3 linked regions of the Homo sapiens genome follow. The gene in region 2 interacts genetically with the main gene of each other region. Each region holds a gene or a part of one and is shown on either strand. Other genes may lie near its edges.

Evidence for each region.
Region 1: changes in BCL2L1 (region 2) and SLC16A5 together harm fitness more than expected from each alone (negative genetic interaction), as found in Homo sapiens cells (one large-scale study listed by BioGRID).
Region 3: changes in BCL2L1 (region 2) and CKM together harm fitness less than expected from each alone (positive genetic interaction), as found in Homo sapiens cells (one large-scale study listed by BioGRID).

What each region holds. Positions count from the first base shown.
Region 1 is NC_000017.11:75,097,938-75,101,586, reverse strand, and holds part of SLC16A5 (monocarboxylate transporter 6), read right to left. Parts: intron 3,550-3,649; coding exon 3,406-3,549; intron 1,631-3,405; coding exon of another isoform or gene 1,581-1,630; coding exon 771-1,580; intron 1-770. UniProt on the Homo sapiens protein: Proton-linked monocarboxylate transporter.
Region 2 is NC_000020.11:31,712,797-31,716,445, forward strand, and holds part of BCL2L1 (bcl-2-like protein 1), read right to left. Parts: intron 1-3,649. UniProt on the Homo sapiens protein: Potent inhibitor of cell death. Inhibits activation of caspases. Appears to regulate cell death by blocking the voltage-dependent anion channel (VDAC) by binding to it and preventing the release of the caspase activator, CYC1, from the mitochondrial membrane.
Region 3 is NC_000019.10:45,316,313-45,319,961, forward strand, and holds part of CKM (creatine kinase M-type), read right to left. Parts: intron 3,420-3,649; 5' UTR 3,402-3,419; coding exon 3,209-3,401; intron 1,668-3,208; coding exon 1,513-1,667; intron 1-1,512. UniProt on the Homo sapiens protein: Reversibly catalyzes the transfer of phosphate between ATP and various phosphogens (e.g. creatine phosphate).

The sequences.
Region 1 (3,649 bases), on a different chromosome or scaffold from region 2:
CTTTTTTTTTTTTTTTTTTTTTTTTCAGATGGAGTCTCACTCTGTCACCCAGGCTGGAGTGCAGTGGCGTGATCTCAGCTCACTGCAACCTCTGCCTCCTGGGTTCAAACGATTCTCTGGTGTCAGCCTCCCAAGTAGCTGGGATTTACAGGTGCCCGCCACCACACCCAGCTAATTTTTTTGTATTTTTAGTAGAGATGGGGTTTCACCACGTTAGCCATGTTGGTCTCGATCTCCTGACCTCGTGATCCACCCGCCTCAGCCTCCCAAAGTGCTGGGATTACAGGCGTGAGCCACCGCACCTGGTCACAAACCCATGCTTTTTTTTTTTTCTTTTTGAGGCGGAGTCTCGCTTTGTTGCCCAGCCTGGAGTGCAGTGGCGCAATCTCAGCTCACTGCAAGCTCTGCCTCCTGTGTTCATGCCATTCTCCTGCCTCAGCCTCCCGAGTAGCTGGGACTACAGGCGCCCATCACAACGCCCAACTAATTTTTTTGTATTTTTAGTAGAGACGGGGTTTCACCATGTTGGCCAGGATGGTCTCGATCTCCTGACCTCATGATCTGCCCGCCCCGGCCTCCCAAAGTGCTGGGATTACAGGCATGAGCCACCGCGCCGGGCCAAACCCATGTTTTTAACTGTTCATACTCTGAGTGCCAGGTTGGAAACCAGCTGTAGCACAACCTCTGGAGATGCTGGACTGGGCCCAGATCTGTCTAAACTGTTCCCCTTTTACCACACTATCTGGCTGCCCTCCCTCCCAGCTCCTCACCGGCCAGTGGTGGGGAGATGAGGAAAGCAAGGCCGTCCAGGACAGTGAAGAGTCCCAGGGCTCTGGGGAACTGATCCATGGGGACGATGTCCATGAGAACCTGGAAGATGAGGGCGCCGATGCCACTCATGGACACGCTGTACGCCAGGCAGTAGCCCACGAGCACCCAGAAGTCACCTGATGCCGCACACACCAGGTTAGTGAGCCCATTGAGCAGGAGTGCCAGGCTGAACAGGTACTTGCGGTGGCTAGCAAAGGCCGGCCGTCCTGCCATCAGCCCGGCTAGGGGCCTCAGGAAGATGTTGCTGAAGCCGATGATGGAGATGAGGAGGGCTGCCTGCTGCTCGTCCACGCTGTGCCACATGGCATATGGCACCAGGAAGACTTGTGGCAGTGGGAAGCCCAGGACGGACCACATCACACCCAGTATGTACACGCAGTAGCCTGTGTTGTGCCGCAGGATGTCGAAGGCCAGGTGGCGCTGGATGGTCCGGCCGCATGCAGCCAGGCAGCCAAGTGCAGGTGTCTCGGGAGGTGGCGGGGGACATTCTTTGGTCTCAGGGGCCACACTGGTGGCCACAGGCCTTATGATGGCCCCGCAGATGCAGCAGTGGAGAAAGATCCCGCCGAAGACAAGGAAGGTACCCCTCCAGCCCAGGTTCTCCAGAAGGTAGCGGGAGAGCAGCGGCCAGAGGGTGATGCCCAGGGAGACGCCCATCGAGGCCAGCGCGTTGGCCAGCACCCGCCGGCGGACAAAGTAGAAGCCCAGCACCGTGATGCTTGACTGGAAGCTGAAGCACATGCCCAGGCCTGCGGGGCAAGAGGGGAAACCAGCCTGGAGGCGCACTGGGGCCTTCCACCTGCACCCAGGGGTGGGGTCAGTGGTCATTTCACACACCTGCCCTCCTCTGGTTCTAGTCCATACCCAGCTCCAAGTCCCTGGGGACTGACCATGGAATCAGCTGGCCTCGCCACCTCCCTGTAGGCACCCCACCCCAGATCTGCCCTCCCAAGGCTGCCAGGGCATCCCTGTTCCCCTAGGTGTAGCACGAGAGTTATCTTTTAAAAACCCAAATTGGGCCGAGCGCGGTGGCTCACGCCTGTAATCCCAGCACTTTGGGAGGCCAAGGTTGGCGGATCACTTGAGGTCAGGAGTTCGAGACCAACATGGTGAAACCCCATCTCTACTAAAAATACAAAAAAATTAGCCAGGCTTAGTGGCAGGCGCCTGTAGTCTGTAATAGCTACCTAGGAGGCTGAGTCAGGAGAATCACTTGAACCCGGGAAGTGGAGGTTGCAGTGAGCTGAGGTTGTGGAGGTTGCAGTGAGCTGAGATTGTGCCACTGCACTCCAGCCTGGGCAACAGAGTGAGACTCTGTCTCAAAAACAAACAAACCCCAAATTGGATTAAGTCTCTCTTGGCTTAACACCTTCCAAAGACTTCCCATCACACTTGACAAAAAATCCACAGTCTCCACAATGCCCTGGAAGGCTCTCTGTGGTCCGGCTCCAGCCCGCCTCTCAGATGCCATCTCAGGCTGCTCCCTGTCACTCATTAGGATCAAGACACAGGAACTTCTTTCTCTGCCTCTGGACATGAAGCTGCCCCTACCTCGGGTTATTTGTAGCTGCTGTTCCTTCTTGGAATCTGCTTCCTCCAGACTTTCCACTCTCCTCTCAGTTCAGACGCCACCTCTCCAGAGGGGCCTTCCCCGCTCCCCACCCACTCAGTGTCTGCACCTGCACACCTGAGCATGCTGGAGAAAAAGTTCTCAATCATGTGTGACCGTGGCCTCAGGCGGGCCCTCAGGCTGCCTGTGACGCCACTACAGCTCCCTCAATCATGCCTTGCCTGCCCTGCTAGGTGACTACCGGTGTCTTCCTCTGTGCCCCCCAACACCTCCTCCCTATCCTTATGCTCAGCTGCCCACATGCCTGCTAGCCAGTGACAATGGCTTGCCCATTCCCCCAGTGGCTGTCCCTCCCTTCTGCCCTGCATCCTCTCCACTCAGAGGCACCCCTCTAGCAAGTCCCCTCTCTCCTGCATCATCCTTTTTCTCTTCTTTCCTAGATCCTTCTCCTTCGTTATTTCTCCCATTAAAAACAAACAAACAAACAAACAAAAAAAGCCTGTCTTGACCTCATAACCACTTCTGGGTATAGTCTGTTCCTCCAGTCCCCTTAAAACAAAATGCCGTGAAAGGGCTGGGCATGATGGGCTCACACCTGTAATCCCAGCACTTTGTTTTTTGTGTTTTTGAGATGGGGTCTTGCTCTGTTGCCCAGGCTGGAGTACAGTGGTGCGATCTTGGCTCACTGCAACCTCCACTTCCCGGGCGATTCTCCTGCCTCAGCCTCGAGTAGCTGGGACTACAGGGGCCCGCCACCAAGCCTGGCTAATTTTTGTATTTTTTTTAGTATAGACAGGGTTTCACCATGTTGGCCGGGCTAGTCTCGAACCCCTGACCTCAGGTGATCTGCCCGCCTCAGCCTCCCAAAGTGCTGGGATAACAGGTGTGAGCCACCGCACCCAGCCAGCAGTTCCAGAAGATTAAGAGGCCTGCCTGCCCTGTCCACTTGTGCCTGGCACTTTCTAGCAGGTGCCTATAAATTCTGGAGATGAAGTGATAGTCACCTGTGATGAATCCTGCTGTGAAGTAGAGCTGGCTGAGGTTGTGAGAGAAGGAGCTGGCCACCATGCCCAGGCTGGCCAGCACGCCCCCCAGCATCACGGTCACTCGGCAGCCGAAGCGTCCCACCAGGATGCTGCACAGGGGCCCTGTGGGAGAAGACAGCCAGCAGGTAGCAGCTGAATGAGGAGGTGGCGGGAGAGGAGGAGAGTGGCTGGAGAGGGCAGTTCCAGCTGGAACTAGCCAGGT
Region 2 (3,649 bases):
GGAGGGGAATGTTTCCCTTTCAAGAGAGGAACAAAGGATCTGAGGCATAGTTGAGTGCGTTCCAATCCCCTCCCAGGCCAGCTCCCATTCCTCAGATGATTGTCCAACAAGGTTTTCAACCTTCTAGCTTCCTCCTCAAAGGTGACTGGGGGAGGGGAAGGCAGGCTCTGTTTCACTCCACCCTTTATCATCAATTTCCAAGAGGCAGGATTTATATGTGCCAAACCTCAAGTTATCTCTTAAGAATCCCATCCTATGCAGGGGTGGGGTGGAATCTCCTAGGGGAACTCAGGGTTAATGGATGACACAGGGCACCGCAAGCAACAGGTTTAATGCATCTCCAGGGGAAGTCCAGGACTGAAACTGCTAATGCGTGATGGAGCCAAGGAGAGAACCCAGGAATTCTAACTGACCTCCCTCACAGCCTAGCCTAGGGTAGGGGGTAATGGCCTGGCAGAACCAAGTAGAAAGGCATTTTCTAAATCTTGAAGGGATGATCACAGCTGGAGGCAGAAGCCAGGTGAAGGAGGAAAGGGTAGGGAGCAAAGAAAGTAATGGACAAGAGGAAAGGCAGGGACACGTCCAAAAAAAGTAGTTTTTGGGGGGCGGACCTCTAGGGACATTGCTTTCCAGTTTCCACACTCTTGCCGGCAGGGCTGGGACAGGAAGCAGTCCATGGAAGTCATCGCAATGGCATTTCCTGAAGAGCTGGAGAAAAACCTCCAGTTCCGAGGGGAGCACTGGAGGCTGCCCAAAAAGCTGTGTGGCTCAGAGTTCACTGTAAGGCTCAAGCTTGGCCCGAGAGTCTCATCAGGGATGAAACCAAATAGCAGACGGTCCCAAAGGCAGTTTCTTTATACAAAACCACAATTTCAAAAATCAATATGTAAAAAAAGAGAAGCCAGATGATGTGAGTGAAGAGCCCTAGGATGATATGAAAGCCTTAAAAGAATGAATTAATTCACCCAATCTTCAGAAAAAGGTGGCATTACTATAGCCATTTACAAGTTAAAAGACTTGCCCAAGGTCACACAGCAAGCTAGTAGTCAAGTTCCAATTTGAAAGTCCAAAAACTGCCTCTTCCTCCTGATGTAACCTTGGGCAAGTCAATTCATCTTTCTCACCTGATTTCTCTCCTTTGAAACGGAGATGTCATCCTTCCTGCTCACCTCTCTGGGTGGTTATAAGGATCAAAAAGGCAAGGTGGATCTGAAAGTGCTTTGGAAGCTGTAAGGTGTTACATAAATATAGGGTAGCACTATTGTGGGCTCAGTGATAAACTAGCCTGCCTTGACACTGGGTTTAGTTAAGGTGCTGACATATCTGTCAACAGGAGAGAGCCATTTTAAAATATAACTAATGTGAAATATGCTGTAATGGTGGAATCCGCCACAAGGCCTAAGGATAGAGAGAACCAGCATTCCTTTATTGCCTACTTCAAACCCTCCATCTTGCATAAAGGGAAACTGGGGACTGGGGGTGAAGTGACTTGGCCAAGGTGAGACTGAGAGTAGAACTGGGATTCCAACTCCAAGACCAGTGCTTACACCACCATTGCACACAAACACTGTGGAGCTCCTACTACAACAGAAATGCTGCAAGGGCCTGCTCTGAGATGTGCTGATGGGTCACTATGGTATTTAGAAAAAGGAGAGTGGATGCTCAAGATTCCGTGAATGGGTCTCTGACATGCGTTCTGTGGAAAGATAATAAGAATAATGATACCAACATGGCTCCAGTCTTTATGCATCTCAGGTATACCTCACTGTGTCTTTACCATCGCCCCCTGTGAGGCAGGTATTATTATTTGTCCCAAGATTCAGAGAGGTAAAAGGAGCTTGCATAGGTAGACACGGATGAGTTGGGAACTGAACTCAGACAAATTTCATTTACTCAGACAGAAATACTGTTGGAGTGGAAGAGGACCATTCATCAGAATATCACATTTGGAGAGAACTATTCCCAAAGAACATCTATCTTACTTAACTTTGATTCTAGGACCTCCAAGTAGTTGAAAAATATGGTTTCCAGGATGGCTGGACCCATCAATATACCATGTGCAAGCCTGGTCTTATTCTCCAGTCCCCGTCTCACTACACCTCCACCTCTAGGTCCAAGCCACTATTCTTTTTCACCTGGCAATTGCACCAGCCTCTTCACTGGGCTCCCTGTTGCCACCCTTAAGAATACAGACCAGGCCTGGCACGGTGGCTCACGCCTGTAATTCCAGCACTTTAGGAGGCTGAGGCGGGCGGATCACGAGGTCAGGAGATCGAGACCATCCTGACTAACATGGTGAAACCCCGTCTACTAAAAATACCAAAAATTAGCCGGGTGTGGTGGCGGGCACCTGCAGTCCCAGCTACTTGGGAGGCTGAGGCAGGAGAATGGCGTGAACCCAGGAGGTGCAGCTTGCAGTGAGCAGAGATCGTGCCACTGCACTCCAGTCTGGGAGACAGAGAAAGACTCTGTCTCAAAAAAAAAAAAAAAAGGAATACAGACCATTCCACCAAAGCCAAATCCTCATCATGGTCTGTAATGCTGTATGCGATCTGGCCCCCACCTACTTCTCCATCCTCCTCCTCAACCATTCCCTCCCCACCTTCTACCCTTTTCCCCTTTGCTGTTTCTTCTCCAGCCACATTGACCTTCTTGCTCATCCTTGAAAATGTCAAGCATGCTCCCTCCTGAGTCCATTCCCTCTGCTTTAAACACCCTTTGCTGTAGGGTACCTACATCATCCACCTCCTTACCTCATTTAGCGCTTGGCTCAAATAAATTTAGGTAATACTTTTGTTGGGACTCAGGACATACCATCCCAAAATATGACTGTAGGAAAACAATATGCCACCCCAAAAATATACTTCTTTGGCATATTTTGAACTGGTTATTCTGAGAAACTGCAGACATAAGAGTAGCTCTGAAAAGCTGTCCTTTTGTAAAAGAAATTCACATCTAAAAAGGAAATCTACACTAGTAAAGGTATCTGTATTAGGAAGAGGGCTGCTCCAGACAAATTTTATTACCAGAGAGACTTTTTATTTTTATTTTTTGAGACAGGGTCTTGCTCTGTCACCCAGGTTGGAGCGCAGTGGCTTGATCTCGGCTCACTGCAACCTCCACCTCCCAGGCTCAAGTGATCCTCCCACCTCAGTACACCCCCTCAACAGTATCTGGGACCACAGACACACGCCACCACCAATTCTTTCCCTCACCCTGCCATAACTTGGGTTGCTGCCACTCAAGCCCCTAACAGAAGTCCCAAGCCCCATATTCTTTTCTGTAGCTCAGGATGCTATATAAGCTTCAATTATCTGACCCTTCTTTGAGCCTCATATTTTGTAGGATTCCTGTGTACAACTATGTAATTAATTATTTTTCCTCCAGTTAATCTGTCTATGTCAATTTAATTCTCAGCCCAGCCAAAGGACCTAGAAGGGTAGAGGAAAGCCATTTTTTTCTCCCTTACACCTTCTTTGATCACTCTTTTAAAACTGCAGCCCCACCCTCCCTTGCTAGACATGCCCTATGCCCCAACCTGCTTTATTTTCTTCATAGCATGTACAATCATCTGATATAAACATGTAATTATATATTTATTGCCTGTCACTCCTCATTGGAATGTGAGCTCCATGAGGACAGAAACTTA
Region 3 (3,649 bases), on a different chromosome or scaffold from region 2:
GAGTGAGATTCTGTCTCAAAAAAAAAAAAAAAATAGAGACAGGGTGTCACTATGTTGCCCAGGCTGGTCTCAAACTCCTGGGCTCAAACAGTCCTCCTGCCTCAGCCTCCCAACGTGATGGGATTACAGGCATGAGCCACCATGCCTAGCTAAATTTTTAGGCTTTTTTTTTTCTTTTTTTTGGGCAGAGACGGGTTCTTGCTATGTTGCCCAAGCTGGTCGTGAACTCTCCTGGCTTCACGTGATCCTCACACCTCAGCCTCCATAAGTGCTGGGATTACAGGTATAGCCACTGCACCCAGCCTTTCTGCCCATTTCTGTTTCTCTTCCTGTCTCCCTTTCTCCCACTCTCCTTGTCTGTGTCTGACTGCAACTGCGTGTGTCTCTCTCTCCCTGTCTCTCCTGCCTTCTCTGATGCTCCCTTCTGTCTCCCTCTGTGTCTCTGCCTCTCCCCCCACCCTTTTTTTTTTAGGCAGAGTCTCGCTCTGTCACCCAGGCTGAATAGCTAGGATTATAGGTGAACACCAGCATGCCTAGCTAATTTTTGTATTTTTAATAGAGACTGGGTTTCACCGTGTTGGTCAGGCTGGTCTCGAACTCCTGACCTTATGATCCGCCCACCTCAGCCTCCCAAAGTGTTGGGATTACAAGCGTGAGCCACTGTGCCCGGCTATGCCTCTTCCTTTTCTACATGCTTTTGTGCCTTTCTTCTCCCTCTCCCTCTCCTTTGTCTGTCTGTCTCCTTGGTTGTCTGTGTCTCCTTGGCTGTCTCTGTGTCTCTCTGTCCCTCTCTCTTTCCTTTTTTTATTTTCTGAGATAGAATCTTGCTCTGTCACCCAGGCTGGAGTGCAGTGGCATGATCTCAGCTCACTGCAGCCTCCATCTCCTGGGTTCAAGAGATTTTCCTGCCTCCACCTCCTGAGTAGCTGGGATTACAGGCACGCGCCACCATGCCCAGCTAATTTATTTTATTTATTTATTTATTTATTTTTTGAGACGAGTTTCGCCCTTGTTGCCCAGGCTGGAGTGCAATGGCACGATCTCTGCTCACCACAACCTCTGCCTTCCAGGTTCAAGCGATTCTCCTGCCTCAGCCTCCCACGTAGCTGGGATTACAGGCATGTGCCACCACACCCAGCTAATTCTGTATTTTTAGTAGAGACGGGGTTTCACCATGTTGGTCAGGCTGGTCTCAAACTCTCAATCTAAGGTGATCTGCCCGCCTTGGCCTCCCAAAGTGCTGGGATTACAGGCGTGAGCCACCGCCGTGCCCAGCCCTTTTTTTTTTTTTTAAAGACAGAGTTTTGCCATGTTGGCCAGGCTGGTCTTGAACTCCTGACCTCAAGTGATACGCTCGCCTCAGCCTCCCAATGTCCCTCTCTCTTTCCATCTCTCTGCTTCTCCACACCTCTGTGTCTCTCTCTGTCTCTGTATTTCTCTGTCTCCCCCCATTTCTCCTGTGATCTCTCTCCTCCTCACCCCTCGGCCCTCCCCTCCTGCGCAGACACCGACCTTGAGGTTTTCATGGTTGAGGTCAGTCTTGTGCTTGTCAGTGGGTTTGTAGCCCCCGTGGCGATCCGAGATGATGGGGTCAAAGAGTTCCTTGAAAACTTCGTAGGACTCCTCATCACCAGCCACGCAGCCCACGGTCATGATGAAGGGGTGACCTGGAGGGGTGGGGGTGAGGTCAGAGCTGCTTGTCCCCAGCAAACAGGGCGTGGGCTTGTGGGCTCAGTGGAGCCTGTGTGGACATGTGTGTCGGGATGGGGGCGGGTACATTCAATACCTCTGGGTGGGAATTGAGAATCATAAGGGTTGGGCACAGTGGCTCATGCCTGCAATCCCAGCACTTTGGGAGGGTGAGGCGGGTGAATCTCTTGAGGTCAGGAGTGTGAGACCAGCCTGGCCAACAGGGTGAAACCCCATCTCTGCTAAAAATACAAAAATTAGCTGGGTGTGGGGCACACACCTGTAATCCCAGCTACTCAGGAGGCTGAGGCATGAGAATTGCTTGAACCAAGGGAGTGGAGGTTGCAGTGAGCCAAGATCACACCACTGCACTCCAGCCTGGGTGACAGAGCAAGACTCTGTCTCCAAAGGAAAAAAAAAAAAAGAGAGAACACTGAGGACTGGTGGGAACTGGGAGGGAAGGCTGGGAGAGGTCAAGGTGGCTGGGAGGGGTCAAGGTGGGAGAGAAGAAAGAGTGCTGGGGGCGGGGTCAAAGGAGAAAGGGGAGCTTCAGAGGGTACATGGTGCTAAAAGCATCAGCACCTCGGAAACATTAGCACCCAAAGTCATGACATCTTAGCCTGAAATGTTAGGATCTCAGGCTACCACCGTACCACAGAGGGTCAGGAGGGTAAGAGACTTGAAAGACCCTCTTGTTTCCCAGTGGAAAAACAGGGGCCAGGAGAGAGGGGCTTCTCCCCGGCATCACACAGTGAGCTGGATGTGAGGGGCACTAGAGCCTCCCCTCCACTCCCAGCTCTCTTCGCCTTGCAATGTCCTTTGAGAAACAACCATAACATTAATAACATCCCCTGTCAGATTCTTTTTTTTTTTTTTTGAGACAGGGTCTCACTCTGTGGCTGGAGTACAGTGGCGCGATCTCGGCTTACTGCAACCTGCACCTCCCAGGCTCAAGCGATCCTCCCACCGCAGCCTCCTGAGTAGCTTGGACCACAAGCCCTCATCACCACACTTGGCTAATTTTTTTGTATTTTTTGTAGAGACAGGGTCTTGCTATGTTGCTCAGGCTGGTCTCAAACTCCTGGCCTCAAGTGATCCTCCCACCTGGGCCTCCCAAAGTGCTGGGATTACAGGCATGAGCCACTGCACCTGGCCCCCCTGTCAGAGCTTGAGCACTCACTTGGTGCCAGGTGCCACTCTAAGCACTGCACAGCCATTGACTTGTGTTTTCACAACGTGGGCGCCCATTTTTCAGATGAGGAGACTGAGGTTCAGGAGGTGAACCGACCTCCTTGGGGATCTCACATTATTCTCGTGCATGTTTATTGCGTGGTTTGCTGAGTACCTCGCACTGTCCCAAGCCTTTATGTATATTAATGCATTGATTCCCACAACAGCCCCATTTTACAGATGAGAAAACTGAGGCCCCCCCCCCTTCAAGGGTGGTGGGATTGGGGCATGGCCGGCAGCCTCCAGAGCCCCCATGTAGCCCCTTCAGTGCTCCACTGGGGAGGCTCACCTGGGTTGTCCACTCCTGTCTGGATGACATCGTCTACAGTGAAGCCAGATGGAGTCTCCTTGTCCCGCAGCTTCTTGTAGAGTTCAAGGGTCAGTACCTTGGCCATGTGGTTGTTATGTTTGCTGAGGTCGGGGTACTCCTCCTCAGGCTTGTAATTCAGCTTGAACTTGTTGTGGGTGTTACCGAATGGCATGGTGGCGGTGTAGGAGACCTGATGGGCAGGGCAGGAGGGGAAGATTGAAGATTAGCTGGCATCTTTTTTCTTCTTCTTCTTCTTTTTTTTTTTTTGAGACGGAGTCTCGCTCTGTCACCCAGGCTGGAGTGCAGTGGCACGATCTCGGCTCACTGCAAGCTCCACCTCCTGGGTTCACACCATTCTCCCGCCTCAGCCTCCCGAGTAGCTGGGAATACAGGCGCCCGCCACCACGCCGGCTCATTTTT